Homo sapiens: one gene and its partners. The protein of the gene in region 4 interacts with the protein of the main gene of each other region in a biochemical or structural test. Each region holds a gene or a part of one and is shown on either strand. Other genes may lie near its edges. The genes, in order: PSMD4, UBE2G2, UBE2L3 and PRKN.

Region 1 (8,321 bases), on a different chromosome or scaffold from region 4:
GGCCTCCTCCTCCTGCCGCTGCCGCTGCTCTTCCATAGATACACGAAGGGCCTGGTGAAGGGCAGGGCATAATCAGGGCTCCCCTGCCCTCACTCCTACAGGGAGCTGGGAAAGTCAGTTGGGGTGTGGGAAAGGAACATAAAGGGGCAGCTTCTGGTTTATCACACAGAGAAGAAGCTGGAGGGATAAGCAGTGGTACGGGATTAAAAAGTAAGGACTTGGGAGAAGCCTCGGTTTTCATCAGAAGTGAACAAGAAAGCATCTGACACTGGTGCCCCTAGAGATCAGACAGCATTATAGGGAAGAGGCGGCAAAAGGAGGTCTTGGAAAATGAGTGATTGGTAGTGTCTAGGACTATCCAGCCTGATAGAAGCTCTGTGATGTGTGTGCCAGAAGAGAACAAAGAGGGACCTTTGGACTCTACCTGGGGTCAACATTTGCTCACCAAGGCCAGCTCAGGATCAGCACTGGGATCTACTCCAAATTCAAAGTCACTGGCACCAAGACCCAGCATGGCACCACCTTCACCAGCCAAAATCGGAGAACTGATGAGAGCATCAGCCAAACTGGGCCCAGGAGGCACTGTCACCAGATGAGAACCGGTTCCATCTTTGCCATTCAACGTGTTTACAAAGGCTGTCAGCTTTTCTGTGTTCACCTCCTGGGGAGGAAAGAACACATGATGCCCTTCTTCAGGCCTTGCTCCCTGTTCTTTCCCATTTCTGCACTACTCTGCCACAGTACCCGCACTCCTCAGGGTTAAGGACCATTCTGTTTATGACCAAATTAAGTCAATGCCCTCCAATCAGTCCCTACTCACCTCTTCCCCAAAATTGATAATGTCAACATTTACTTTCTCCTTCTTGAGGCGTTTAGCCAGTTTCACCAGCTGGGAAGAAGGGGAGAAAAATCAAGAAATCTGTTCCATACTCGAGGGGGGGAAAGGACCCGCCGCATAAAAGCATACAGAAATCTATTGACCTCCCCAAGGTCCTCCAACAGAATCACTGAATTCTCCACATTCACCTTTCCCCAAAGTGATGAGCCTGATGCCTCTGCCAGGTTCTCCTGAGGGCTGGAAGACCTCAGTCCCAAACATGGGCTCCCCACATTCCCCAGCTGCCACTTGGACTCACATCCTTCTCATTGTCCTCCACTGGGCTTCCCACAAAGGCAATGATGCGCATCTTGTGATTCTTGCCTTGTCGGTGCTTCAGAGCCAGCTTGTAAAGGGAGAGGAAGTTCTCAGAGTTAACCAGAGGAATCACTCAGCTCTTTCCTCTGTCACTCGGTTCCCTTTTTCTTACAGTTTCTTTGTACCTGAAGTACACCATCTACCATCACGTTCACACAAGATTTAACACCCCCACCTCCTCCCTTTTTGCTATGACTCTCTGTGCATAAAGAAGGGAGGTTAATTCTCTTTCTCTCTTTTTTTTTTTTTGAGATGGAGTCTCGCTCTGTCGCCCAGTCTGGAGTGCAGTGGCGTGATCTCAGTTCACTGCAACCTCCACCTCCCGGGTTCCAGCGATTATCCTGCCTCAGCCTTCCTAGTACTGGCTAATTTTTATATTTTCAGTAGAGATGGGGTTTCACCACGTTGGCCAGATTGGTCTCGAACTCGTGACGTCAGGTGATCTGCCCGTGTTAGCCTCCCAAAGTGCTGGGATTACAGGTGTGAGCCACCGCGCCCGGCCTTTTTTTTTTTTTTTTTAGAGAAACAGGGTCTCCCTATGTGCCCAGGCTGGTCTTGAACTGCTAGCCTTCAGCAATCCTCCTCCCCTGGCCTCCCAAAGTGATGGGATTACAGGCATGAACTACCACGCCCAGCCTTAATTCTCAATTCTAGGGATTTTTCCCTTCACAACCCTCAACTACCCTGGGATTCATCCCCCATATCCTTTCTACTCCAAGTTAGCTTTCTCTTGCTCTGGTCCTAGCTCAGGATTCCAGGGGAGAAATGAGTATGATGGAGGCAGGACCTCAGAGCAGGGAGGAAAGGTCCAGGGAACCCAGTAGGACTCACATGGGCCACGCGGATGCCCGTGCAGAAGGTGATCTTGCCCTTGGGTTGGACAGTATGTAGCTTGGACAGGATACGGCCAGTGTCTGGGGTGAGTGTGGTCAGCACTTCACAGTCACTGGGATGTAGGAAAAGCATTTCAGTGAATTCAGGTCAGCACAAGTACCTCTAAACTGTGTCTAACTTTTATTTATTTATTTTTTAGACGGAGTCTCACTCTGTCACCCAGGCTGGAGTGCGTGGCGTGATCTCGGGTCACTGCAAGCTCCGCCTCCCGGGTTCACGCCATTCTCCTGCCTCAGACTCCCAAGTAGCTGGGACTACGGGCACCCACTACCACGCCTGGCTAATTTTTTGTATTTTTTTTAGTAGAGACGGGGTTTCACTGTGTTAGCCAGGATGGTCTCGATCTCCTGACCTCGTAATCCGCCCACCTTGGCCTTCCAAAGTGCTGGGATTACAGGCGTGAGCCACCGCACCTGGCCTGTGTCTGACTTTTCTTTAAAGACCTGGATAATAACCATTATTTCTATTCTAATTGTAATCTCTATTCTTCTTTTTTATTTTTTGAGACAGAGTCTCGCTCTGTCACCCAGGCTGGCGTGCAGTGGCGAATCTCAGCTCACTGCAACCTCCGCCTCCCGGGTTCAAGTAATTCTCGTGCATCAGCCTCCTGAGTAGCTGGGATTACAGATCTACACCACCACGCCCGGCTAATTTTTGTATTTTTAGTAGAGACGGGGTTTTGCCATGTTGGTCAGGCTGGTCTCGAAATCCTGACCTCAAGTGATCCGTCTGCCTTGGCCTCCCAGAATGCAGGGATTACAGGCGTGAGCCACTGTGCTTGGCCTCTATTCTTCTCAATCAAACATCTAGTATTTAATGGAAACCAAGCACAGAAATAATTAAGTGGCTGGCTTTGTAAGAAAGCTGCCCTCTACTTCCAAATATTTTCCCCTAACTCCTTTTAAAGGCTCACAGGGCCCTGAGAATCCACCAAAATAACGATGCTAATTTGTATCTCTCCTGTCCTCTCCACCTCCAGACCCATTCTCCTAGCTAACAGTATGTACACTGGAGTGGGAGGCTACTCATTTAAGAATTATCAGTTCCTAAAACAAAACACTTTCAGGGTAAAAGGATGAGTGATATATGCCCAGGGGCTCTGATCCAAAAATTACTTTTTTCTTTTTTTTTGAAATGGAGTCTCATTCTGTCGCCCAAGCTGGTGTGCAGTGGTGTGATCTTGGCTCACTGCAACCTCCGCCTCCCGAGTTCAAGCGATTCTCCTGCCTCAGCCTCCTGAGTAGCTGGTATTACAGGTAGCCACCACCATGCCTGGCTAATTTTTGTATTTTTAGTAGAGACAGGGTTTTGTCCTGTTGCCCAGGCTGGTCTCAAACTCTTGGGATTACAGACATGAGCCACTGTGCCCAGCCCAAAATCACTTTTCACTGACTTTAAAATATATTATGAAATTTCACCCCCTACCCTAGCCCTGCCCAACAAACAATAAAAAGAAACAGAAATTTCACCCCAGGAGATTTAGCTTCCGTACTACATTAAATACAGGTTAATACAAAAAACAAGTTGCTATTGACATTTACACTAAATAGTGCAGAAGGCAGTCTAGGAAGGTGATGGGCAAAAGCAGCTTCATGGAATCTAAAGAAGAGTAGCATGTAACAACCACCCACCTACTGAGTCCCCTCCTCCTCTGTCCCCCATACTTAGCCAGTGTGATAAGGCCCACGTTGTTCTCAGGGTTGCTGCGGGTCTTTGAATGACAAACTATGTTGACAGCATCCTGCTGGGCCTGCAGCCTGGTGGGTAAGAAGTCTCCATTCCGCATATACTCACTGTTGTCCACACTGTCAGATTAGGGTTGAAGGACAAGAGAGAAGAAATGTAGAAGTTTTCCAAAACCTTCTCTCCAGTTCCAGAGGCCCCCTATAGCAGCAGTCTTCATAGCATCACCTGTAGCTTTTTTTCTTTTTTAAATATACAGATGATCAAGCCTTAGCCCACATTTATTGACTCAGAATAACCAATGAGGAATTTTTTTTTTTTTTTTTTTGAGATAGGGTCTTGCTCTGTCACTCAGGCTGGAGTAGAGTGGTGCACTAATGGCTCACTGCAGCTTCCACCTCCTGGGCTCAAGTGATCCTCTCACCTCAGCCTCCCAAGTAGCTGGGACTATAGGTGCAAGCCACCACGCAGCTACCTTTTAAATTTTTTTTGTAGAGACAGGGATCTAGCTATGTTGCCCAAGCTGGTCTTGAACTTCTGAGCTCAAGAGATCCTCCTGCCTCCACCTCCCCAAGTGCTGGGATAACAGGTGTGAGCCACCTGGTGCCCAGCCGAAAAAATTTTTAAATCCTTACAAAATGATTCTGATGAGCACCAAAGGTGGTGATCTACTGATGAACCACAGCAATTTCTTACAAGCTGCACTTAAGTGCTACTAAGCTTTGTCATGGATAAATACTCTAAGTCTGCCATTAAATGGCAGTAATCCAAATATAGGAAATGAAGAAGGTAACTTAAAAATATCTATAGCTGGGCGCGGTGGCTCATGTCTGTAATCCCAGCACTTTGGGAGGCCGAGGCAGGTGGATCACCTGAGGTCAGGAGTTCAAGACCAGCCTGACCAACATGGAGAAACCCTGTCTCTACTAAAAGTAGAAAATTAGCTGGGCGTGGTGGCACATGCCTGTAATCCCAGCTACTCGGGAGGCTGAGGCAGAAGAATCGCCTGAACCCAGGAGACGGAGGTTGTGGTGATCACACCATTGTACTCCAGCCTGGGCAACAAGAGCAAAACTTCGTCTCAAAAAAAAAAAAAAAAAAAGAAAAAGAAAAAAAAAATCTATAAAATAGGCTGGGCACAGTGACTTATGCCTCCCAAGTGCATCCCAGCACTTTGGGAGGTGGAGGCGGGTGTATCACCTGAAGTCAGGAGTTAGAGACCAGTGTTGGCTAACATTGTGAAACCCCGTCTCTACTAAAAATACAATAATTAGCCAGGTATGGTGGCGCACACTTGTAGTCCTAGCTACTCAGGAGGTTGAGGCAGGAGAATTGCTTGAACCCGGGAGGCCGAGGTTGCAGTGAGTCAAGATCACGCCACTGCACTCCAGCCTGGGTGACAGAGTGAGACTCCATCAAAAAAAAAAAAAAAAATCTATAAAATAGGGCCAGGCATGGTGGCTCACAACTGTAATCCCAGCACTTTGGGGGGCCGAGGTGGGCAGATCTCTTGAGCTCAGGAGTTTGAGACCAGCCTGGCAAACATGGTGAAACCCTATCTCTACTAAAAAATATAAAAGTTAGCCGGGCGTGGTGGCAGGCACCTGTAATCCCAGCTATTCGGGTGGCTGAGGCAGGAGAATCACCTGAACCTGAGAGGTGGAGGCTGCATTGAGCCAAGATCGTGCCACTGCCTCAAAAAAAAGAGGTCTATAAAATAACACACACTTGGCAGCACTGAGTGCAGAAAAGTACAATGCAATCATCTCATTAAATGCTTAACAGCTTTGACAGCTGAACTGAACGGTAAAAATGAGGTTTTGTGGATCTGAAGTCTCACCTCTTAGATCCCTGCAACTTTTCATGATCTAAAAGTATCCAGCTAATGTGAAATATAATCTCGAGTTTCCCAAAGACCAGAAGAAGGCAGGTAAGTGATGCAGTTATATAAGCTCCTGTAAGGATCAATTCTTGATGACCTCTGAGGTCCCTGAGAGCTCTAATAGTTAAGGTTCTACCTGTGCTAATGGACGGAAGCAGTGCCTTAGATGAGATACCTCATTTCTTTCTTTTTTTTTTTTTTGAGACAGAGTTTCGCTCTTGTTGCCCAGGCTGGAGTGCAATGGCTCGATCTCGGCTCACCGCAACCTCCGCCTACCAGGTTCAAGCAATTCTCCTCCCTCAGCCTCCTAAGTAGCTGGGATAACAGGCATGCAACCACCATACCCGGCTAATTTTGTATTTTTAGTAGAGACGGGGTTCCTCCATGTTGGTCAGGTTGGTCTCAAACTCCCAACCTCAGGTGATCCACCCACCTCAATCTACCAAAGTGCTGGGATTACAGGCATGAGCCACCACACTTGGCCCTCATTTCTTCTTTTTAGAATTTTATCTATTTTTTAGGCTGGGCATGGTGGCTCACGTCTGTAATCCCAGCACTTTGGGAGGCCGAGAAGGGAGAATCGCTTGAGCCCAGGAGTTGGAGAACAGCCTGGGCAACACAGGAAGACCCAGTCTCTACCAAAAAAAACCACATTTTTTATTTATTTTTTATTTTATAGAGATGGAGTCTCACTTTGTTGCCCAGGCTAGTCACAAACTCCTAGACTCATGTAGTCCTCCTGCCTTGGCCTCTCAAAGTGCTGGGATTACAGGTGTGAGCCACGGCACCTAGCCAAGACATCTCATTTCTATTGGCAAGCAAAATGTGAGCCTGGGGCAATTTTTTTTTCTTTAGTATGCTTTGTTTGGCAATAAACCAAAAATGGTAAAGAGAAGTAATTAAGAAGGTACTGGAAAACAAGTATTAACAGAAAAGGGAATATATAGGTTAAGTACACTTAATCAGAAACTCTTGAGATCCGAAATGCCCCAAATCAGAAAGTTTTTGAGTTTTGAGTGCTGACATGATGTTCAAAGGAAATTATCACTGGAGCACTTCAGACTTCCAGATTAGGGATACTCCGCTGGTTAAGTATAATGTACATATTCTAAAATCTGACAAAAATCCAAAATCTGAAACACTTATGGTCCTAGCCATTTCAGATAGGGAATACTCAACCTGTCTAGGGTAGTATTCAGGCACAGGTTCAAGCGCAGGCACAGGTTCAAGCGCAGTCACAGCTCACTGTAGCCTCAACCTCCCAGGCTCAATAGATCTTCCCACTTCAGCTTCCCGGGTAGCTGGGACCACAGGCGTGCACCACCATGCCAGCTAATTTTTGTATTTTTAGTAGAGACGGGGTTTCACTATGTTGGCCAGGTTGGTCTTGAGCTCCTGACCTCTGATGATCCGCCCACCTCAACCTCTCAAAGTGCTGGGATTACAGGTGTAAGCCACCGCACCTGGCCATTTCACATATTTTTTTGAGACAGGATCTTGCTCTGTCACCCAGGCTGGAGGCCAGTGGTGAAATCATAGCTCACTGTAACCTCAAACTCCTGGGCTTAACCCCTTCTCCTGCCTCAGCCTCCTAAGTAGCTGGGATTACCGCCAAAACCTTTATTTTAAAAGAGAATACAGGCTGGGTGTGATGGTTCATGCCTGTAATCCCAGCACTTAGGGAGTCCAAGGAGGGAGGCTCTCTTGAGCCCAAGAGTTCGAGACCAGCCTAATCAATATGACAAAACCCCATCTCTACAAAAAATACAAAAAATAGCTGGGCATGGTGGTAAGTGCCTGTAGTCCCAGCTATTCAGGAGGCTGAGGCAGGAGGATCACTTGAGCCCCGGAGGTCGAGGCTGCAGTGAGCCAAGATCACACTACTGCACTCCAGCCTGGGTGACAGAATGAGACCCTGTCTCCCCCAAAAAAAAAAAAAAAAAAAAAAACACTCGAAAAGGGTAATACAATGGCACATGTGCAAGGCAGTCACATCAACAGCAGGTTCCCCATGATGCACTACATGGGGCCAAGAACTATGTGCATACTGCCACAAAAAGAATAAAATACCTTGGCTGGGTGTTGTGGCTCATGCCTGTAATCTCAGCACTTTGGGAGGCTGAGGCTGGTGGATCACCTGAGGTCAAGTGTTCGAGACCAGCCTGACCAATATGATGAAACCTCATCTCTACTAAAAATACAGAAAAAAATTACCCGGGCATGGTGGCACGCACCTGTAATCCCAGCTACTCGGGAGGCTGAGACAGGAGAATCATTTGAACCCGGGAGGTGGAGGTTGCAGTGAGCCGAGATGGCGCCACTGCACTCCAGCCTGGGCAACAAAAGCGAGACTCCATCTCAAAAAAACAAACAAATAGACAAACAAACCTAGGAATACAACTAACCAGGGAGATGAAAGAGCTCTACAATGAGAATTACAAAATACCGCTCAAATAAATCAAAGAAGATATAAACAAGTGGAAAAACATCTCATGCTCATGAATAGGAAGAATCAATATCATTAAAATGGCCATACTGCCGAGCATGGTGGCTCACACCTGTAATTCCAGCACTTTGGGAGGCTGAGGTGGGCAGATCACTTGAGGCCAGGAGTTCAAGACCAGCCTGGCCACATGGCCAAACCCCATCTTTACTAAAAATACAAAA
Region 2 (8,321 bases), on a different chromosome or scaffold from region 4:
CTACAAAGCATTTTAAAAACTAGCTGGGCGTGGTGGTGTGCACCTGTGGTCCCAGCTACTTGTGGGGCTGAGGTGGGAGGATTGTTTGAGCCTGGGAGTTTGAGGCTGCAGTGAGCTGTGACCAGGCCACTGAACTTCAGCCTGGGTGACAGAGCTAGACCATGTCTCCATAAGAAAGGGAGGGGAGGGGAGGGGAGGGAAGAAAGGAGGGGAGAAAGGAAGAGAGAGAGGAGGGAGGAGAGGAGAGGAAGGAAGGACGGACAGACGGTTCCAGACCTATTATTCTAGAATCCGCCTTTTCCATTTATATTGTGTACATCTTTCCATGCCAGGATGAAAATTCCACCTGAACTGTTTTACAGCTACATGGCATTACTCTATATAGATGCTCCATAAATTATGTGGAACAGTGATGTTTCCTTTTTTATTATTATTACTGCAATGAATGTGGCAATAACTTCTTCATATAGGGATCTTTGTGACACTTTTGTTGAAGAAAATGCTATGGTGAGATTACATACAATACAAATTATAAACACCTATTTTATTATCTCGGGTTTATTTCAGCAAGGCATAATACTGCCAAGAGATGCCCTGTGACAGTCTTCAGTCAACAAGAAACCTGGACATAAAGGGAGGCTGCTGTGCCCCGGACACTGGCCCCCAGTGTGAGAAGGGCTCCTGGTAGAAGCCGCGGCAGCCTGGGAGCCCTCAAGCTGGCTGCCATGAGCCAGCTGGAGAACCTGGGAGCATCCATCCACCAACTGGGCCCCAAACACACCATTCAGTAAAGGAAGGTCCTTCTTATTTCACCACAGCCTCTAGAACCACTGGTCTGGGGAGGTGACAGCAGTCAGGCATGAACCAGACAAGAAGGTCACCAAGCCAGCTGATTTGGGAATGCTGGGGCAGGACACAGAGGACAGCAAGCGCCAAGGGACTCCACGCCTTGTCCGGCCACTGGGGATGAACAGCTGTCTAGGACTCCTTCTGTCCCACATAAGTGCATCAATGAAAGAGGGCACCCACCCTCTCTGCAGCTACACCCCCGTCACCGTGGCTTAGTGGCAATGGGGTCACGGGCCATGGACCCTAGAGCTGGGCAAGACCTGTAACCATCTGTCTAGAAGATGCTGATAAACCTCTCTGTTTTGATCCAAATAAGTCAAAGAGAGGCAAAGTGACTGGGCCAAGAGCAGCAGGCCATGCTAGCACCCACAGCCACGGTGGCCACATCCCCTGGTGTGCCGCCATCCCAGCCACGCTCGATTTGATTGCAGGCTCAGACTCCACCATGAGCGTGGCAGGGTCAGCAGAGTTATTCCCGGTGTTTAAAGACACAGCCTGCGGACTCTCATTATTTAGTCCTCTCATTCACTAATCTGTTCTATTCTCCATCCTAATCCCTCAACCCTGGTCTTCCAAGGTAAAGATTTCAGTGCATCTTTGACATGTCTGTATCTTCAGACAAGGGCCCTAACATATCAAAGGCACTTAGTGTTTGTTGCTTAGATATCTAAAATGACATTTTCTTCACTGGCCCTTAAGGCAAGCACAACAGCAAAAACCAACAGCCGTTCGACTTCTGTGAGGCAAGCACGGGTTTTAGAAATACTAGGGTAGAGAGGCGGCCCTGGAAGCCATCAAAGAATAAAGAGAAAAAGAAGAAACTTATCACCAAGGAGCAAAGACTTGGCCAGATGTCTGCCAAAATAGCAGGGTGAGACAAATCGATGGGAGGACAGTTAATTCCCTAATAGGCATTTTAAGTGCACTTGTAAACGGCCTCTTGTTTGTGAAGGGTCTGGAACAGGACCAAAACCCACAAACTCACTAGGATCTTCAAGCAGGGGAATTCCAAACTAATGCAAAAAGCCTTGTTCAAACACAGAAGTGCTCTACCTAAAAATAGTTCTAATTACTTTTTAAGACAGGTTTTCAAAATATTGGTTTAATTTTACACTGTTTATTTAAAATTGGTAATAGTTACCCTAATCGATTTTTAACAATGAACATTTTTTTAAAACCACACTGGACGGCTCAACTGTTCCTTTAATGAGCTTCCAAATAGGCCTACGGAGGAGCCAACACCCCACAAATAACTGCAGACACGACAGGCGCCTTCAACCTCTACACACAGACAGGCCTCCCGCCACTCTGGGCCCCTGCAGCAGGCGTGCTGCCCCGCTGGCATGAGTGCAGGTGCGCCTGCATTAACACATGAAACAAGCAGGTTACACATCAGTTCATGTATATGATCTCCTGCTTCTACAGAAATAAAAAGAGCTGCCCCGATACAAGTATACAGCCGCACAGTCCACTAATGAGGACAGCCCAGACTGTGGGACTCGCCATCCATCTCATAACTGCCTTGGGGGCCACATTACACACAAACACAGATTCCAGAAACCTTCAGACACCGAAAAAACATGTGCCATAGGCCCAAGCAATTAGGATATTACAAATGATCAGGAAATGGCAGGCGTGCTGTACCATCTGAATAGCGTTTGATGATTTTTTAAAAACATTTTGTTTATCCAAAATACTAATTTTCATATCAATTTAACCTCCACAGACAACACTTAGCTGCAATCTGTTTCTCAGACCAACCCATAGAGCATTAAGAATTAATGTGATCCAAGCAACTGGCGAATTCCAAAAGCATCATGAAGCTTAAGATCACTTCAAGCCAGAGCCCACACTTGTTTCACAGCCCTCACTTTTCCGGTCCTTGCCCTCTAGAGCACTTCTCAATGCAACAAAATCCAACCCAAGACCTTGCTGCAAATTAAAAGACCTCACTAATGAGATAACAAAGACTGGGCTTGGCGCGGTGGCTCACACCTGTTATCCCAGCACTCTGGGAGGCCAAGGCAGGCGGAACACCTGAGGTCAGAAGTTCGAGACCAGCCTGGCCAACATGGGGAAACCCTGTCTCTACTAAAAATACAAAAATTAGCCAGGCACGGTGGTGGGTACCTGTAATCCCAGCTACTAGGGAGGCTGAGGCAGGAGAATCGCTTGAACCCAAGGGGCAGGAGTTGCAGTGAGCCAAGGTTGTGCCACCGCACTCCAGCCTGGGCAACAAGGGCGAAACTCCATCTCAAAAAAAAAAAAGAAAGAAAGAAAAAGAAAAGAAAGAAAACAGAGACTGATTACAAATTTCAACTTCCTAAATTTTATTTAACCTCACTTTGCTGAAAATACACTAAGAATGGCCAAAAATTGCACATCTAAGGTAGAAAGAAGAAAAAGCAAAGTGAGTCAAGGCCATAGAACACTCTAAAATCAGGGGTCCATGTGTTTCTCTTTCCAAGCAACGTCACCCTAAGTTAAATGCCACGAATCCCAGAACCACACTGCTCACTTACTAAGCCATGTCTTGGGTCGGAAAGAACACAAGGCCAACAAGTCCAGACAAGGCAACAGAAAAAGGAGATGCAGCACACGAAGATACGAACTGGGAGGAAAGGAGAAGAAAAAGAAGTCCTGGCCCAAAGGCAGGGCAGGCAAGGCTGCGCTAACATGCCTGGTGTGGTCAGACACATCTTTGAGGACCCTTTTCTCGTCAAAATTTCACACCTGAAGGGGCTACTTCTGGAAGCCAAAGCCACCTACGCCATTTGAGGTTATTTTAACCACGATCATACAACATTCCAAAATTACCACCTTAAAACTCTCAAATATATAATACATATATTACATAATTATAACTAAACCTTTGACTGGCTCTAAGGAAACACTCATTTCTTTTGGATCAATGCTCAGGTTCTCTGCTTTCAGACCAGCAGCCTAGACGAGAGCTGGGCATTACTGGAGAACTCAGTCTTTTTTCCAGCTGATGCTTTTGGACACAGTCACACTGCTGATGTGATTCTTACATCTGACTTCCAGCAAAGCCCTAAAAACTAGTACACCTAAAATTAACTTACATGATCAATGCCTCCCATTCAAAAAAGTTCTCTTCATTCATGGGGCCTGTAGGGTGAGAAAAAATTTCACAACATTTTAACTTTGAAGGAACTTTGGCAATTAAAAGTAAATTATAAGGAAGTTAACTTTGGTACCTTACCTGCTACAATTCCTTCCGGAGGATTCAGTGTTAATTCTATAAAATTAATAAGTAAAACCATTACCAAACAGAATAAATGTTACATTGTCATTTTAACAAAACACCTTTACAAAATATATAAGCCTATAAACCATAGAATATGCATATTAACAAGTGAAAATTCTGTTTGCCCAAAGTGAATACCTAGTACAATAACGGTTCTGATAACAACTACACAAAGTTTTTTTGTTTTTTTTTTGTTTTTTTTTGAGACGGAGTCTCACTCTATCACCCAGGCTGAAGTGCAGTGGTGTGATCTCAGCTCACTGCAAGCTCCACCTCCCAGGTTCATGCCATTCACCTGCCTCAGCCTCCCAAGTAGCTGGGACTACAGGCGCCCACCACCACGCCCAGCTAATTTTTTGTATTTTTAGTAGAGACGGGGTTTCACCGTGTTAGCCAGGATGGTCTAGATCTCCTGACCTCGTGATCCGCCAGCCTCGGCCTCCCAAAGTGCTGGGATTACAGGCATGAGCCACCGCGCCGGCCCAAATAGTTCTTTATACCAACAAAACATAGACTTTTCTTTTTCTTTTTCTTTTTACAAATGCAAAAGCAAACATAAGGGGTACACTGTCTTTCCAAACTGTTCCTGCTGGTTACTTTGTTGCTTAGTTTTGAGACAGGGTCTCACTCTGGTTGCCCAGGCTGGAGTCCAGTGGGCAACCAGAGTGAGACTGGGGAAATTAATAAAACAGTAAGCAAACATACAGAAAAAAAAAAATCAATGAAACCAAAAGGTGGTTCTTTGAAGAGACAGAAAATTAATAAATCCTTGCCAAATAAATATAAGGTATAAGGACTGAAAAAGAAATAAAACTCATTATTCACAGATGCTATGTCCATATATACAGGAAAGCCCAAAAGAATCTAAAGATAATTAGTAAAAGTGAGTTTGGCACAGTTGCTGAATATGAGGCATATATATATCTTTCTAAAAGATATATAAAAATGCAAACAATCCAGAATAGCCAAGACACTATCTTTAAAAAGAATAAACAGAGGGCCAGGCGCGGTGGCTCACGCCTGTAATCCCAGCACTTTGGGAGGCCGAGGCGGGTGGATCACCTCAGGTCAGGAGTTCGAGACCAGCCTGGCCAACATGGCGAAATCCCATCTCTACCAAAAATAGAAAAATTAGCCGGGCATGGTGGCATGCACCTGTAGTCCCAGCTACTTGGGAGGCTGAGGCAGGAGGATCACTTGAACCCAGGAGGCGGAGGTTGCAGTGAGCCGAGATCGCGCCACTGCACTCCAGCCTGGGTGACAGAGCAAGACTCTGTCTCAAAAAAAAAAAAAAAAAAAAAGAATAAACAGAAAGCTTCATCTATGAGTTACCAAGCCTTCCTTACAGAGCTATGGAAATTAAGGCAACGTAGCACTGGCTCAAAGTTAAATTGAACAATGGGGCACAAGAGAAAGCCCAGAAGCATACCTGTACCAACAGAGACCCTGACTCGAGGGAACACAGAGCTATGGCCCAGAGGCAAAGGGCAGTCTTTTCCATGAATGATGCTCATCTCTAAGACAAAAAAAAATCAAACTTTCCCCATCTCACACCACATATAAAAATCAAAATAGGTAAGAAGAAAAATGGAGGCAGAGTTGAAAAGAGCCACTGTCAGAGTCAACACGAATGATGCTGTGGTCCAAACGCTTGCGTCCCCCCAAAATTCCTATGTTGAATCCTAATGTATGTGGTATTGGGAGGTGGGACCTTTGGGAGGAGATTAGGTCAGGAGGGCAGAACTCTCATGAATGGAGTTAGTGCCTTTATAAGAAGAAACGAGAGATTTGCCTCTGGCCATGTAAGGGCACAAGGAGAAGACAGTCATCTGCAAACCAGGAAGACAGCCCTCACCAGACTTCCCAGCCTCCAGAATTGGGAGCAATAAATGTTTGTTGTTTAAGCTCCCTGGTCTTTGGTATTTTTTTACAGCAGCCTGAACTGACTAAAACAGATGGCTAATAAGCACATGAGAAAATGCTCAACATTGTGAATCATAAGGGTAATGCAAATTAAAACCACAATAAGATACAGCTCAATAGCTTCAGCATTATCAGTATCTTTAGTCACAAAAGAATGGCCAAAATTAAAGACTTAAAGTGCTGGCAAGTTTAGCAAGTAGATCTCTCATGCACCACTGATGGGAATGCAAAATGGTTTGGTTACCCTTTGGGAAAGAAGTTTGACCATTTCCACTAAAATTACATATATATTGACTCTAAGACCCAGCAATTCTACTGGGTCTTATGTTGCCATAGACTTTTGTGTGAATGTTCATAGTAGCTAAATTCGTAATAGCCCCAAACTGGAAACAACCCAAATGTCCATTGATATGGTTTGGCTTTGTGTCCCCACACAAATTTCATCTTGAATTGTAATCTCCAGGTGTTGAGGGAGGAACCTAGTGGAAGGTGACTGGATCATGGGGGCAATTTCCTCCATGCTGTTCTCATGACAGTGAGTTCTCATGAGATCTGGTGGTTTTATAAGTGTTCGAAAGTTCCTCCTTCACTCTTCTTTCTTGCCACCTTGTGAAGAAGGTGCTTGCTTCCCCTTCGGCTTCTGTCATGATAAGTTTCCTGAGGCCTCCCTAGCCATGTGGAACTGTGAGTCAATTAAACCTCTTTCCTTTATAAATTATCCAGTCTCAGGGAAGTTCTTATAGGAGTGTGAAAACAGATGAATACAGTAAATTGGTACCAGGGGTACTGCTATAAAGATAACCTGAAAATGTGGAAGCAACTTCAGAACTGGGTAGTAGGCAGAGGTTGGAACAGTTTGAAGGGCTTAGAAGAAGGAAGATGTGGGAAAGTCTGGAACTTCCTAGAGACTTGCTGAATGCTTTTGACCAAAATGCTGATAGTGACATGGACAATGAAGCCCAGGCTGAGGTGGTCTGAAAAAGAGAAGAGGAACTTCTTGGGAACTGGAGCAATGGTCACCCTTGCTATGTTTCAACAAAGAGAATGGTGAGATTTTGCCCCTGCCCTAGAGATCTGTGGAACTTTGAACTTGAGAGAGATGATCTGAAATTGGAACTCGTGTTTAAAAGAAAGCAGGGAATAAAAGTTTGAAAACTTCGCAGCATGACGGTGCAATAAAAAAGAAAAACCCATTTTCTGGAGAGAAATTCAAATAAGTAACAAGGAGCCAAATATTAATCGCCAAGACAATGGGGTAAATGTCTCCAGAGCATGTCAGAGATCTTGGCAGCAGCCCCTCCCATCACAAGCAGGGAGGCCTAGGAGGGAAAAATGGTTTTGTGGGCCAGGCCCAGCCCCGCTGCTACTCTGTGCAGCCTTGGTACTTGGTGCCCTGTGTCCCAGCTGTTCCAGCTCCAGCCATGGCTAAAAAGGGCCAAGGTACAGCTCAGGCTGTTGCTTCAGAGAGTACAAACCCCAAGCCTTGGCAGCTTCCACGTGGTGTTGGGCCTGTGGGTGCAAAGAATTCAATAACTGACGTTTGGGAACCTTCACCTACATTTCAGAGGATGTAGGGAAACGCCTGGATGTCCAGACAGAAATCTGCTGCAGGGGCAGGGCCCTCATGGAGAACATCTGCTAGGGCATTGCAGAAGGGAAATGTGGGGTTGGAGCTCCCAGAGTCCCCACTGGGGCACTGCCTAGTGGAGCTGTGAGAAGAGAACAACCATCCTCCAGACCCCAGAACGGTAGATCCACCAAGAGCTTTGCACTGTGCACCTAGAAAAGCCAAAGACACTCAATGCCCACCATGAAAGTAGCTGAAGGGGGTGGGTGTGGGAGGGCTGTACCCTACAAAGCCACAGGGGCAGAGCTGCCCAAGACCATGAAAGCCACTCCCTGTATCAGTGTGCCCTGGATGTGAGACACGGGGTCACAAAGGAGACCATTTTGAGCTTTAAGATTTAATGACTGCCCAGCCGGATTTCGGACTTGCATGGGGGCCTGTAGCCCTTTGTTTTGGCCAATTTCTTCCATTGGTAATGGGAGTATTTATCCAATGCCTGTATTTCCATTGTATCTTGAAAGTAACTAACTTGCTTTTGATTTTACAGGCTGCTAGGCAGAGGGGACTTACCTTGTCAGAGATGAGACTTTGGACTTGGACTTTTGAGTTAATGACGAAATGAGTTAAGACTTTGGGGGCCTTGCTGGGAAGGCATGATTTGTTTTGAAATGGAATGGTTTTGAAAGGAACATGAGATTTGGGAGGGGTAGGGGG
Region 3 (6,142 bases), on a different chromosome or scaffold from region 4:
CACCAAATGAAAGGAGAAGCAGCAAGGGGCAGCAGGTGACAGAAGTCAGGCTGCAGCGGGTACAGGAGTGATGAAATGGATGCTTATTTCATGCTGAACAATTAATAGTGAACAAGGCCAAAAATGGTGGCTGGTGGCTGTAGGGAAGAGGAAGTTGACAGAGGGGCTTAAAGGTCTCTGGCTCTGGGGAGGGTGGTAACTGGCTGTTTCTGGGCTCAGAGGGACCCTGTGGGAAGAAATATGCCAAATGGTGGAATGCAACAGGCTCTGCAGTCAGAATGTGAACAAAAACAGGCCAGGGGTCTTGGTTGTCTTTAAAAGCAGGGATAAGGATGCCACAGGGCTCTCCTGAGACTCAGAGGGTAAAGTGCTAGGTATGTTAAAGGCTAGTAAAATGACACCCCAAGAAGTTTCCTTCCCCAAGACCTGCAGATCCAGCTGAACAGTGCAGGCCTAGTCTCAGCTGGTGTCAAATTCCAGGCAGGGAAGGCCTAGCCAAAAAAGTCCTGGGTCTGGCTGAGCCCTTGCTGAGTTAGCACCACTGCCGCAGCACCCTGGCAGTGGGCTGTACTGGGGACTCAGAGTGTTTCTGGCTGGCACCATTCATGGACATGGCCCAGCTCCACCCACAGGCACACCCTTATCAATTCTGTGACCTCTTGGGACCGCAGGTTTGCCTCTTCTAAACATGGATTGTTAACACTCCCAGGAGGCTCCAGGATGACCCACGCATGTAAGTGATGCACCCACACTTTAGTCCCTGTCCCCTCAACGAGACGCCCAAGAGCGCCCTCTGCAGGCCCCGACTGTCTGAAGTCTCCGGCTTTCTTGCTGATTATACCTCATCTCCTTCCCTCTAGGGAGGCAGGAACACTTCTATGTACCTCTTTTGGAGAGGCTGGGAATGGGGAGAGAGATCAGAAGCCCCAGGACCTGGGCCCCAGCCAGCCCTCCCATCTCCAAGAGCATAGGCCCCTGGCACTGCCCGCTCCCAGGAAGGAAGAAACCCACACGACTAACCAGTGTCTGAGAGCATTTTTATTACGGGCAGCAGAACGGGATCGCAGCATCTTAGAAAGCCTATTCTCTGCCGTGGTGGGGAGTAGGGAGCAGAGGGAAGGACCCAGCACACTTCAAGAAACCAGGCGGGTGTGAATTCCTGAGTGAGCTTGGGGCAGCAGTGGGTGGCTGCTCCACAGCTCGCCCCTCCTCCAGAGGACCCAGCTTTTTGGTTTTGGAGCAGCCAGGGCTGTTCGCCAGCTTGCTCAGAGCCTACCCTGAAGGCATGGCTGGCAGGAGCAAGCCGCCCAGGCCCAAAGGAGAGACACCCACTGGCTCGAAAGCCAAGCCTCTGCTGACGGGGCCAACCCTGGGGTGCCAGTGCCAGGGCTGAGAGTCCCTGAGGGGCTGCCGGCACACAGGTATCCTCCCGTGATGAGCAGAGTGCAGTGAGGGGTTGACAGGCAGGCAGAGCTACGTTGGCAGAAATACGAAGCAATGGGACAGTTTCCAAGAATGGCAACATTTCTGGATCCAGAGAAGCAACAAGAACAAATGGTGGCTTGTTTGGATAGCTGACAGAATTTGGCATTTTATTACAAACTGGAGTGTGAGTGAAATAAAATCCATCATCACTTTTCTGCTAATGAAGACAGATGTGGAAACGCCAGCCCGGTGCCCTTGCCATCCCGGGCACAAGGGAGTCTCCAGAAACCTGCCCTTGGCGTACCTAGGACAAAAGAAGCCGAGTTCGTGTACACACCGCAGGGGCCATGCGCCTGAACAATGTTAGGCTGCCGAACCTGCCCATCACTCCCCACTTCTGCACAGACCAGACCAAGCTGTCTTACACGCCTGTAGGCCCCGGAAAGATCTCAAGTTATAGAATTAAAATTAAAACAAAAAGCAAAGTTTAAGTCATCTTCTCCACAGGATCTAGTCCCCCCCAAGAGCCAAGAAGGGAAGCCGCCAGTGGCAGAAGCGGGGTTGGTGACACACGGCATTTGGATCGTCGGCTTCCTTGGGGTGTCAGAGCGACATGGATTCTCTACTAGTGCGGGGACAATCCCATTTGCCTTGAAAAGACATTAATATTCAAATCTTTACAAGTTTATCTGACGATAAATTCTAAGGTCAATTTTTATTTCTACAAAAAAAGGCAGTCAAAACAATATAAAACACATTGAAAGGATATTACTGAGTGAGCTTCAAGTGGAGCTTGACTCTGCAAAGGCTGTGAGTCCGAAGGGAGAGGAAGTCCGTCTTGTTCCCGGGCTGGGCTGGCTGCTCTGGAGGAGGGGGTCAGCAGGGGCCCAGGCGACCCCAGACTGGTGCTTTAAATAGCCGAGTCCTGCTAATTCCAATCCTACAAAGGGTCAAAGTGTGCCGAGGGAGGGCTGTGGCAGGGCCACTGCACGGAGGAAGTGGAGAGCAAGCTCCGTGGCACATTCGGATGAAGCTCGGTGACAGATGAGCTAGGAGTTTCAAACGGACATTCTGGCTGTAGCTTTGCCTGCAAGGACCAGCAGATCTTCTACAATGGCTGCAGGGAGAAGTGCCAACCTGGGACCTCAGGAGCCTTTCTGGCGAGATTCATCACACACAGTGTGCACAGCATCCTCCTGACTAGCAGGCCCCCCATTTCGGGGCCACCACAGACCTGTGATTATAGGGCTTCTCTGTGCAGGCCAGGCCAGAGGTCAGTTACACACACTGACATCAGGGCTTGCCCAATTAACTGATGTTACTGTGGTAACATCAGCTGGAGTTTCACACAAGAACTGAGGAGAAGGACTGGAGGAGGGGTGTGGCTGTTTGTTTTTAAATTTTTTAAAAGGATGTTATAAACTGGAGTCAGGAGAATTTAAACCAACTCCCACACTGGGCAACAGTGCCACACATGCTAAGAAAAGCCACCAGGACCGCCAGGGCAGTCTCTTCTCCTTTGTGGAGGCGAGCCCGGGGTCTGGGGAAGTAAGTAAGTGAAAAATAAACTCGGTGCCAGAAAGTGGGAGTGGCAAGGGTAGGGAAGAAAGGGAACCACAACCGTTTTTTTTCCTTTTTTTTAAACCTTATGGGTTAAATGTAACTTGAAGATTTTGGATAAAATTGGACAAGAAAAGAAACACCATTCTTTTGAAGTAGATTGAAGCAGTGATTTTTAAAACAAAGAGAGCAGAACTAGAACATCTTAAATTTTTAATCCTTTCTTTACAGGTTACCTAGACCACTTTTGATTAAGAAAACTGTAGAAAGTTAGTAACTGCCACAAGCGAACGCCAGGCGGTGGCACGTGTCAATTTCCACAGAGTCCTGCTTTGCGGGGTGTCTGAATGCACTGCACGGGGTCTCTGCTCACACTTGCTGGAACCAATCGTGGCAGATTTTAGTCCACAGGTCGCTTTTCCCCATATTTCTTTGTAAACTCTTCAGCATTCTTACAGAATTTTTTACGGTCCTTAGAGTATTCTTCAGCTAGGTCAGCCCGAAGCGGGTGCTCAGGCTGGGGGTCATTCACCAGTGCTATGAGGGACTGGATTACTGCCAAGAGAAGGACAAGGCATGGGGGGTTAACACAGTCTCAGAAATGGCACAGGCAAGAGGCAGCTAATCCGGGAACAAAACTCTGGCTTTACAACTGATTTACAGCTAATGTGCTTTTAAGCCAAAGCTGCCTCCTATTTATCCAAAATTCTGACTGCCAGAAAACTCATCTTTCCTCTGTGATTAGAAGACACTGATGGACAACAAATAGCTAACACTACAGTGGATAATTGTTCACAGTGATGTGCTTCCGCCTCCAGGAAGCCTTCCTGACCTAACACCTGGGGAGGTCTTAGCCCTCAGTCACTCCCAGCCCTTTTTTCTTGGCGGGGGGTTGGGGAGGAGGGACAGGGTCTCACTCTGTCACCTAGGCTGCAGTGCAGTGGCACCATCTTGGCTCACTGCAGCCTCAACCTCCTGGGTTGACCTCAAGCAATCCTCCAGCCTCAGTCCCCCAAGTAGCCAGGACTACAGTCGTGCACCACCATGCCCGGCTAATCCAGTCCTCTTGTGTACTCTGGAGATAGGAGGCCTAGTATTGAACTGACTGCTCACTCTCATGCATGCACACAGGGTCACTTTCTTCAGGGCAGGACCGGGTAGAACTTCCCTGCATCAGCCCAGCACCCAGCACCATGCTCGGCTCAGGGAAGTTTCGGTTAAGGTGACTGAGTGGGCACTAGAGAGAAGGGTATGTGATGGCGCTGCACTTGTCAATGCGCAATGACCCAACTCTGGAAGACCCTTAGGAGTTTCTGAACCCTCTAGAAAGGGTCACTGGGGCCAGCCAATGGGAAGCTGACAACCGCCATCGCATCACATTGTCAAGACCACAGGCAGATGTCACGCTGATGGCTCTGATGGGTGCCACAGTACTCCCCCTAGGTGCCGTAGCCCAGACGTGCCCCAGGGTGGAAGGATAGTGGGGAATCAGAAGCAGCTGCTACCCACACCTCCTCACATACTTTGCCACAGTTGCCCCCTGACCCTGTCAGGACCAGCACCCTCAGAATGTTCCTTCCCACTGTAAAACAGTGCCCCTCTTCTCCGAACTGCTGATGCCACAAATTCCTTCTTATTTTTTTTAGACAGTCTTGCTGTCACTCAGACTGGAGTGCAGTGGCTCAATCATACTTTACTGCACGGTACCCTCAAACTCCTGGGTGTAAATGATCCTCCTGCCTCAGCTTCCTGAGTAGCTGAGACTACAAGCACATGCCATCACGTCCAGCTAATTTTTTTTTTTAACCTAGGCTAGAGTACAGTGGTGCAATCACAGCTCACTGCAGTCTTATCTCCTGGGCTCAAACAATCCTCCCACCTTGGCCTTGAGAGTAGTTGGGATTACGGGTGTTAGCCACTGCTCCTGGCCTAGTTTTTTGTAGAGATGGGGTCTCACTATGTTGCCCAGGCTGGTCTCAAACTCCTGGGCTTGAGTGATCCTACCGCCTCATCCTCCCAAAAGTGCTAGGATGACAGGCATGAAGCCACTGCACCTGGTCAATTCCTTTATTAAGGGCTCATATTGTTCATTCAGCATTACAAGAAATGGATTAAAATGCAAATGCTAGCCAGGCAGATCACCTGAGGTCAGGAGCTCAAGACCAGCCTGGGCAACATGGTGAAACCCCGTCTCTACTAAAAATACAAAAATTAGCCAGGCATGGTGGCCCATGCCTAGAGTCCCAGCTACTCAGGAGGCTGAGGCAGGAGAATCGCTTGAACCCGGGAGACGGCAGTTGCAGTGAGCCGAGATCGTGCCACTGCACTCTAGCTTGGGCAACAGAGCGAGACTCTGTCTCAAAAGTAAATAAATAAAACAAAATGCTGATGCTGGCTGAGTCATATGCAAAGGCATAATCATTCAACAGCACACATTAAGTGAGGGCCACAGCACAAAGTACTCCTGGCCTGGTGTCCAAAACCCACCTGCCTAACCTCTGCTTTTTACTGTGCCTGGTGAGAATGGGAAAGAGAGGGCTCCTGTGACCACAGTGGGTAGAGGTGAAGCAGTGGGGCAGAGGCGAGGAGGGCATTGCGCATGCAATGCTGACAGGTTCCACGTTTGTTGGGGGTGGATGGGCAAGGAGGGTGGACTGTGAACAGCAAGCAGGGGCAAGGGGCCTGGAAAGCTCTCTGCAGGCCAGGGTGGCCTCTAATTCAGTCTCTAAGCCTCTTCAGGGGTAGGTGGTATCACCTCCCTGTACAAGCCACCTGTACCTCTAGAGGCAGCAGGCCCTGGAGGTATATTTTTATTTAATAAACATTTATTTATTTATTTAATAAACGAAGCCCACCCTTGGCTGACTGGCCACAGTGTATTTCAGTGCACACCACCCTCGGTGTGAGACTGCTCCCTTTTCCTGGCTGTTCTTGACTTCAGGGCTGGAAATTGAGCCACAGTCGCCTAAGAGCACAAATAGGTGGCTCCCCTTCCTTTCCCATGATTAGAAATGGCCCTGTAACAGGAGAATTACTACCGCATTAGCATTTTAGAAACCTCACTGGGCTAAGGACAGGCTGAGTACTTCGTTAGGGGCACGCTCAGGAGTTTTCACCTCACTCTCTGATATGAATACTTAGGCTCTCTACTTCTCAC
Region 4 (8,321 bases):
TCTACAGGATACAAATTAGCAACCTGGTACATATCAAATTACCCAGCTGCAATGCACTATGGGAGTCCAGGAGAATATTCACACCTTCTTTTGCCACCTGAGAAAACTACCTTGAAAAGTGAGTTATGTCCTTGGCTAGCTTCATCAACTAGTCCATACACCCTACCCGCCTGCGCGCGCGCGCACGCACACACACACGCGCACACACACACACACACACACAGACTCCTCATGTGTAACACTACTGCATTACCTTTAAGTGACCTCACAATAGGCAAAAATCAAGTTGTAGCTCTCTGTCATTCTTCCTTCATAAGGAAGTACCTAACCATACGTTCAAATGGTGAAGCATTACTGGTAACTGTGGTGGCTGAATAATGCCTCCTTGTCCCTGAAACCTACGACTGTTTCCCGATATGACAAAAGGGACTTTGCAGATGTGATTAAGGATCTGGAGACGAAGAGGCTATCCTGGTGGCTCCTGAATGTAACCCCATGTGTTCTTTTAAGAGGAAGGCAGAGCAAGATTTGATGGCAGTAAAGGAGAAGGCAATGTGACCACAGCAGCAGAGACTGGAGTGATGTGGCCAGGAGCCAAGGAATGCCAGCAGCCTCCAGAAGTGAAAGAGGAGTCTCCACAGGAGCTTCTATTAATGGAAGGGGCTAGCCCAGCGAACACCTTGATTTTAGTCCCTTTTAGTCACTTTGGGGCTGGGCACAGTGGCTCACACCTGTAATCTGACAACTTTGGGAGACTGAGGTGGGAAGATGACTTGAGCCCAAGAGTTCAAGACTAGTCTGGGCAACATAGCAAGATCCTGTCTCTACAAAAAATAAAAAATAAAAAAATTAGCCAGGCAGGTTGGCATGCACCTATAGTCCCAGCTATTCGGGAAGTTGAGCCCAGGAATTCAAGGTTGCAGTGAGCTGTGTTTGTGCCACTGCACTCCAGTCTGAGTGACAGAGGGAGATCTTGTCTCAAAAAAAAAAAAAAAAAAAAGTCATTTTGGACTTTGGGCCTCCAGAACTGTAAGAAAATAAATTTGTGTTTAAAAGTCACTAAACTTGTGGTAATTCGTTACAGCAACAACAGGAACTACACAAAAACTAATACAGTAATCTGGCCATGCCCCGATAGTGTATAATATTAAAGAAAGTGAAATTATGGTTCTAATGTTTGTTTTCCTGAAAACACTACTTTTATGACCAGAACATGAGCATAGTATGCTACCATTGAAAATTTATCTGACATAATTTGACACAAAAGTAGAATCCGTTTTAAATGTATTACCACAATGCATTTGTCCTGAAGATTGTGTTTATAACACATTGCTTTTCAGTATTTCCAAAACATTATACGCTTAACGCTGAAGATCTGAAAAACACAATCATAATAAAAGAAAACATCCCACAACCCAAAGATATAATTTGCCGGTATACTTCCTGATATTTTTACATATACAAATGGCCCCTAATGCTATCTAGTTTCCAGTTATGGTAACTAAATGGTCACATTAACACTTTTTAAAAAAGATCTTTCCCAATTATTAAGAACTCACACATATTTGTCCATCTTAGATCACTTAATCATCCTATCATCACTGTTTTAAGACAAAAAAAATCTTATTACTTCTAGGAACTTCATCTCAAATAGCATCCCCATCCCCTCTCTGACTGACTTTACCTGTATAACTTGCATTCTATTAAGCATAAGATGATTAAATTGGCTGCAAAAGCCAGAAGGGACTTTTAATGAATTTACACACTAAGAATTGTGACAACTATGTCTTGATCCAATATGAAAGTTTCTTAGATGTTGAATCTCCATTAAAAATTATTCCAGAGGCCAGGCGCGGTGGCTCATGCCTGTAATCTCAGCACTTTGGGAGGCCGAGACAGGTGGATCACGAGGTCAGGAGATCGAGACCATCCTGACTAACACGGTGATACCCCGTCTATACTAAAAATACAAAAAAAATTAGCTGGGCATGGTGGCAGGCGCCTGTAGTCCCAGCTACTCGGGAGGCTGAGGCAGGAGAATGGCGTGAACCTGGGAGGCGGAGCTTACAGTGAGCCGCGATCACGCCACTGCACTCCAGCCTGGGCAACACAGCAAGACTCCGTCTCAAAAAAAAAAAAATTTATTCCAGAACTGTCCCCCACAAAACAAAATAGAGTTCTAAAATGGGCAACAATGCCCAGAAATTGCCAGAACATAAAAAACAAGCACAGAGACTTGGTATAAAACTCAAGACACTGAGAATAAGATTATTTGGTGACTTCTTTGAAATCAAGATGATATAAAAGTCAATACCTATGTCAGAAGCTCTGCATGTAGTGAGACACGGCAGATGCCACACACACATACACACACACACACACGAGAAAGGGACAATGAATAATGGAGAAAACTCTAGAGAGGGACAAAAGGAAGAAATTCCAATTCCAATCATAGGTTGAGCATCTCACAGATTCCTAAATGAACAAGAGTGGAAAGCCCACAACAGATCTCTACGAAATATCACTCTCTGTATCATATGATTATGTCTAAATTGACTGCCCAATAAAACACATATACTTCCCATCTGATCCTATGAATTCAGACATATTCATGTAAAAACGTCTTTATATATTGTCACATGTAATTATACAAATTTGGTGAATATCAACTGGATCATGCAGTCTACATTTGTCTGTGGTCAGGAGCCCAGAGAAGCAGCACCTCAGAGAACATGACCTCACTTGTGCTTAAATCTGTACCTCTCACACTCTGGGAACTCACCAGAGAGCTATAAAGGACTTTCAGGAGAAAGGAGGTCGAATTTCAAGGGTGGAGAGAAGACCCAGGGCACAGGGAATATTATTCTTAAATCTGTCTAATTCTCCAAGGAGCAAACCTAACTTGCCCCCATCCTCTAGCTGCCCAGAGTTCATCATTCCTCAATTTTGTTTCAATGGAAAAAAAAAATTGTAATCAGGACTGGATTTGCCTGGAAGGAAAATGCAGAGCCAGAGACTACAAAGATTTCCATTGCAGACAATTCCCAATCTAGGGAATGTCTCCAGTAGGAGCTGTGGTGAAGCCTGGTCTGTTCCGGTCAGGCCACTCCTGTGATAACCCTCAGAAACATTACAACCCACAGTCAAGCCCTGTGGCAACAAGTAAGGAAGAAATTCACCTGTTGTTCAGACAACAGCTGCTCCTTTGAGCTGAAGAATGAAATATTAAATTCCAGCTTCTGAGAAAATCAAGGAATGTGGGTAAGAAAAAAATGAGGGGACAGAAAAGAGGGAGTGCAGGTAGATGTCAAAAAAAAAAAAAAAAAAAAAAAAACTAAAGGTTGACCTCAGAAACACAGATATTACAAATGTTCCTTCCTATTTCTCCATTTTATTAATACGAGCAAGTTTCAGGTGTCTACTTCCTATCATTTCATGATCTGGAAAATGGATCTACTCTGCGGGTACAATAAGCTTTAAAAATGACTACGCAGTTACAGAGGGCTTCATCACAAGATCTTATTTATGCACTGAAACTCCAAAAATATCTCACAATAGGAGTAACTGGCGTATTCAACAATTATGTAAATAAATAATAAAAAGTCTCAATCAGGACACCAATATTAACTCCCTAATCACCAATTTTCCCCCTCATTTGATGAGGGTAGGAGTAGAGATGTGCAAAATGGGTGAGGCTGCTAACTATTGAACATTCTCTCCTCCAAAGTTAAGGGCTCTCATGTGAAACTTTATGGGGGCCTCTGTTCAGGTCTTACAGTAAAAGTAAATTGGAGAGAATCATCAAGAAGCCATCAATACTCTTAAAAATACACACATCTGTCCATAGATGGTCTTTTTTTTTTTTTTTTTTTTTTTGAGACGGAGTCTCGCTCTGTCGCCCAGGCCGGACTGCGGACTGCAGTGGCGCAATCTCGGCTCACTGCAAGCTCCGCTTCCCGGGTTCACGCCATTCTCCTGCCTCAGCCTCCCGAGTAGCTGGGACTACAGGCGCCCGCCACCGCGCCCGGCTAATTTTTTGTATTTTTAGTAGAGACGGGGTTTCACCTTGTTAGCCAGGATGGTCTCGATCTCCTGACCTCATGATCCACCCGCCTCGGCCTCCCAAGGTGCTGGGATTACAGGCGTGAGCCACCGCGCCCGGCCCATAGATGGTCTTAATATGTGCCTAGGTATATGAGTCATGCAGATATCTAAGAGGAAGAAACTATTCTGCACTATTCTGGGTGACACGATATCCACAGCTCTGATGACATTGTTCTCTCCACACAGAGAAGAAACTATAAATAGAACCCTAAGCATCATGTTCCACATATCAAAGAAGGAGATACAAACTATTTTTGGAATACAAATAAAGCTTTAGTAACATGAAATAAAACACCTGTCAATAAGAGACATTAATCTATTCTACAAAAATAAGAACTTTTTAAAAAGAAATATGGCCTTTAATCAGAGATGATGTAATGACATATCAAATCAATGTCAACACCCTGAGAAAAGCCATCTCCTACTGCACAATTACCCTGCCATTCTCAGTCGAAGACTGTCCTCTATTAAACATTATCTGGACTTCTTTCCTTTGTTTTATGGAGTGAGTTTATAAACGCTTGTTCTCCGTAACTAGTGATTTCAAGTATTCTGTTTTATCTAAGAAGTACAATGAAGGTCATGAGAAGTCCTCTATTAACACTTTATCTGGACTTGCTGGCACTAGTGTAACTATTTTCTACAACGTTCTATTTCATAACTTTCTAGTACTGCCACAGACATCTTTCTAAAATACAACCTGTTCATAATGCTCTTTTGTAGATAATGGTTCAGTGACTCCTCCCTATCGCCAACTTTAAACCTACCTCCTTGACAAAGCTTATCTGGTGTGCCTGCAGCCTCACCAGATACCTTTCATTCTATTCTCTTCTCTCCCCTCCATGCCTGTCTAGAAGGCCGCCTTCACCTAGTTAACTCCTACTTGTCCTGCAGGAAAACTGGAATGGCTCCACTGGGAAACAGCTGGATCTTCCAAGCTCTATAGGCTGAGTTTTCCAGTACTTCCTTGTATAAACCTATATTATGATACCCACCTTTCAGGTTTGTAAATCTTTACTTTTCTGTACCCCTTCTAGACTATGAACAAGGACCTGATGAAGGGTAGTTACTAAAATGTTGGCTGACTCTAAAGGAGGTGCTAATTGCCTCACACTAAAAAGAGGGTAAGAGGTGACATGGAAAATTTCACATAAAGTTGGTGCCATTGGAACTGGATCTTGAGTGATGAACAGTAGTTTTGAGATGTTCAACAGAAAGAAAGGGCATTCAGATCAACGAGAATCAAATGAACAAAAGAAACATGAAAAATCACGTGTTGCAGGCATGTATGTGTGTGCTGATATGTACATACATCTTTCTAATTACTCTTCTTCTGTGGTGGTGAAGGTGCAATCTATACCACCAATATAAGCCTAATCAGCCCAACTAGGCCACAAACTTATTGGGAAGAAATGGTCATTTCTATGTACCTTCCCCACAGGCAATATATAGACAAATACAACCTATGTGTACCCATCCCTACCCAGCACCATCTAATACATATGGTATAAAGAAATGACACTGAAATAATAATCATAAATACCTATTCATTCAAGGAAAAAAGGTTTCTATTTGGTGAAAAACAGACATTTGAGTTAATCTGTTAAGAGTCCTAGGTAATTAGGAAATTACTGGGGGAAAAGAATCCTATTACTGTAATTCCTTTTAACCAAGATTCTATGCTACAGGATGAAGTAAATAAGCCAGGGAGGTGAGCTGCAACATAAATCAGCCGACTGTCACATGAGTCTCTTTAATATTACAAAATTGAGGGAGAGAAACCATTCAGATTACTACGAAGAAACATTTAAAATGAGCTCATTAAATGCAAATTAAAACAGAAACATTGAATAAGCACTGGGCTACAATTAAAGGCTGCAGAAACAGCAGGTAAGAAACAATTTTCATTGATCAAAGAACTAATAGCTAACAGAATAAAGTATTTTGCATTAAAACTGCTTTCATGAATATGAAGCATTTCGAAGTAAGAACTCTTTTTTTTGCATTTTTCAAAGAAACTTTGGAGGTAGGAATGGATTTACATATCTTAATACAAAGTACTTTCATTGTATCATTTTCAGGCAATGAAACTATGAGGTTTCAAAAAATGCAGACTTCAAAAACATCCTCAGAAATAGGGCCAAAATTGTAAAGGGCAAAGGGTCATTTTAGAGCCTTTGGACCCAAGGAAGAACTATTATATAATTACATAAAATCTTCTATGCAAAACTTTAGTAGAGCCTATTTTTGACACAATTTTACCTCATTATAAACAGAAGCTTTGGGGTACTTAGGCATAGAGCTGGTTTTCATCAACTTATCAAAATGGCAGGGCAAAGAGCAGTACACAGTATATTCAACTAGAAATATAAATTGAGACTTTAAAATTCACTGCACACAAGCTTGAAAACAAATATGCAGATGTGTAGCCAAATGGTGAAGTCGGAATATACATTCCTGATGGCAAGGGACTTTTTCTGTTGTGTTCCCTCGTTTCCCTGGCACCTAGAGCAGTTAAGGGTACATAGCAGGTGCTGGAATCACTGGATCTGCTTTTGCAAAACTAACGCACTATAAGATGAGAATGAGAAGTTTTCTTCTAAATTAATTTGAAAAGTTAAAAGATACTGTTTTTCATCTGTCAAGACGGCAAAAATAAAAAATCTTCGATGGCACATGGGAGGAAATGGGCACTCTTATACACACTGAAAGGGAGGGCAGGGCCACCAAGGACAGTTGTGCAGCTTGTACACTGAAAGGCACTACCCCTAGGGTGAGAGAGAGGTGGGGGACCGGAGATCCAGGAGGCGTTCTGCTAGTGAAAGCTGAGTCAGTCTCAGGAAGGACGTCTTTTGGCAATTTTCAGCCCAGAGGGGCAGGGCAGCTCTTTACTACCATGTTGTATTAGTGGAGGCTTTAGATAGGCTTGTAAAATTGGGCAACTTATTTTGGAAAAATTTTGAAATACCTAGGAAAATGTAAAATCTACAAACTCTTTAACTCAAATTGTCATACGATTTTTATTTTACATCTATGCTTACATGTGCAAGTAAAAAGATATGGCCACAAACACTTCTGACAACAGTTGTCTGTAAACCTAATGAGTGCTTATTTATTGGTAAATATTTTCATAATTAGTGTATCCTATAAAAGACTAGGCAGGAATCGCTGTGGAGTGGATCTGGACATGCAGATATGTAAATTCTCAAAGAGATGCTAAGTGAAACAAGGTATAGAAGAGACTATGTTCCAATGAATGGTTTTTGTCAATCAAAAATCTTCTTAAAAGTCTAAGACACTGAATGTGTATTTCAATACTGACAACATTGTTGTATATATAACCATGCACTCTAATATCTGCTGTTACTCAAATACCTAAATCCAGTTCTACAGAACATTTAGAACATACCACAAATATCCCCACTAACATTCCATTTTAAACACAAAGAATTGCTCATTTTTAAAAAAGTCAAAATATATTTTTAATAGAGGTACCAAAAATTACATTTTTCTAAATTGAATTCTTTTAAGCTTTTCTATTCTGCTTTATATCATCTTGAAGTCCTTCTCCACACTTTCCACAAAGGCACAATTTTTAACCGACTTCAATTAAATTATGTTTCTGTAGCTGCCTGGGTCAGGGCATTCAACACATCAATCACAATGCAGGTGGGAAATGTAAGTACTTTTGAAACAGTCCTCATGCCAATAAGGGAATCTTCGGTTTTGAGAAAGTAAAAGGAAGGTACATGTCATTAGCAGTGAGGTCACAGTCAGTCCTGTTTACTCCTATTCTACCAGGAAACCCATCTTTACGTTTCTCCTTAAACTAAGCCAGGATTTAAATAAAGTGGCAGAATATTATTCGCAGTAAGGTTGAGGCGGGAAATTAAAGAACAATAAAATTAAAAAGAAAGAGAAATAAGTTTTCCTGTTTTAGGCTAACTTGTTCCAGAAGCAGCAACAGGCACAGCCTAGACCCAGGAAAAGTCTTGATAATATTATCTAATATGCTCTGGAGACTCTCTCAGCACTCCCTCAACACAGGGAGAAGAAAAACAAATTTTCCTTTGTTTTACAGAATGAGTTTATAGACTCTTGTTCTCTGTAACTAGTGATTTCAAGTATTCTGTTTTATCTAAGTAGTACAACGAAGGTCATAAAAAGCCTGAGTAGGCCTGAACTACAGCTGCCTGGGCACCACAGAGAAGGTTATA

Evidence for each region.
Region 1: the proteins of PRKN (region 4) and PSMD4 form a complex in vitro, tested with the Homo sapiens proteins (6 studies listed by BioGRID, with this or other methods).
Region 2: the proteins of PRKN (region 4) and UBE2G2 form a complex in vitro, tested with the Homo sapiens proteins (6 studies listed by BioGRID).
Region 3: the proteins of PRKN (region 4) and UBE2L3 form a complex in vitro, tested with the Homo sapiens proteins (52 studies listed by BioGRID and IntAct, with this or other methods).

What each region holds. Positions count from the first base shown.
Region 1 is NC_000001.11:151,257,734-151,266,054, reverse strand, and holds part of PSMD4 (26S proteasome non-ATPase regulatory subunit 4), read right to left. Parts: intron 3,895-8,321; coding exon 3,754-3,894; intron 2,142-3,753; coding exon 2,027-2,141; intron 1,224-2,026; coding exon 1,137-1,223; intron 890-1,136; coding exon 821-889; intron 662-820; coding exon 446-661; intron 52-445; coding exon 1-51. UniProt on the Homo sapiens protein: Component of the 26S proteasome, a multiprotein complex involved in the ATP-dependent degradation of ubiquitinated proteins.
Region 2 is NC_000021.9:44,783,988-44,792,308, forward strand, and holds part of UBE2G2 (ubiquitin-conjugating enzyme E2 G2), read right to left. Parts: intron 4,109-8,321; coding exon 4,073-4,108; intron 3,979-4,072; coding exon 3,933-3,978; intron 1-3,932. UniProt on the Homo sapiens protein: Accepts ubiquitin from the E1 complex and catalyzes its covalent attachment to other proteins. In vitro catalyzes 'Lys-48'-linked polyubiquitination. Involved in endoplasmic reticulum-associated degradation (ERAD).
Region 3 is NC_000022.11:21,618,913-21,625,054, reverse strand, and holds the end of UBE2L3 (ubiquitin-conjugating enzyme E2 L3), read right to left. Parts: intron 3,541-6,142; coding exon 3,386-3,540; 3' UTR 1,021-3,385; downstream 1-1,020. UniProt on the Homo sapiens protein: Ubiquitin-conjugating enzyme E2 that specifically acts with HECT-type and RBR family E3 ubiquitin-protein ligases.
Region 4 is NC_000006.12:162,716,586-162,724,906, forward strand, and holds part of PRKN (E3 ubiquitin-protein ligase parkin), read right to left. Parts: intron 1-8,321. UniProt on the Homo sapiens protein: Functions within a multiprotein E3 ubiquitin ligase complex, catalyzing the covalent attachment of ubiquitin moieties onto substrate proteins. Substrates include SYT11 and VDAC1.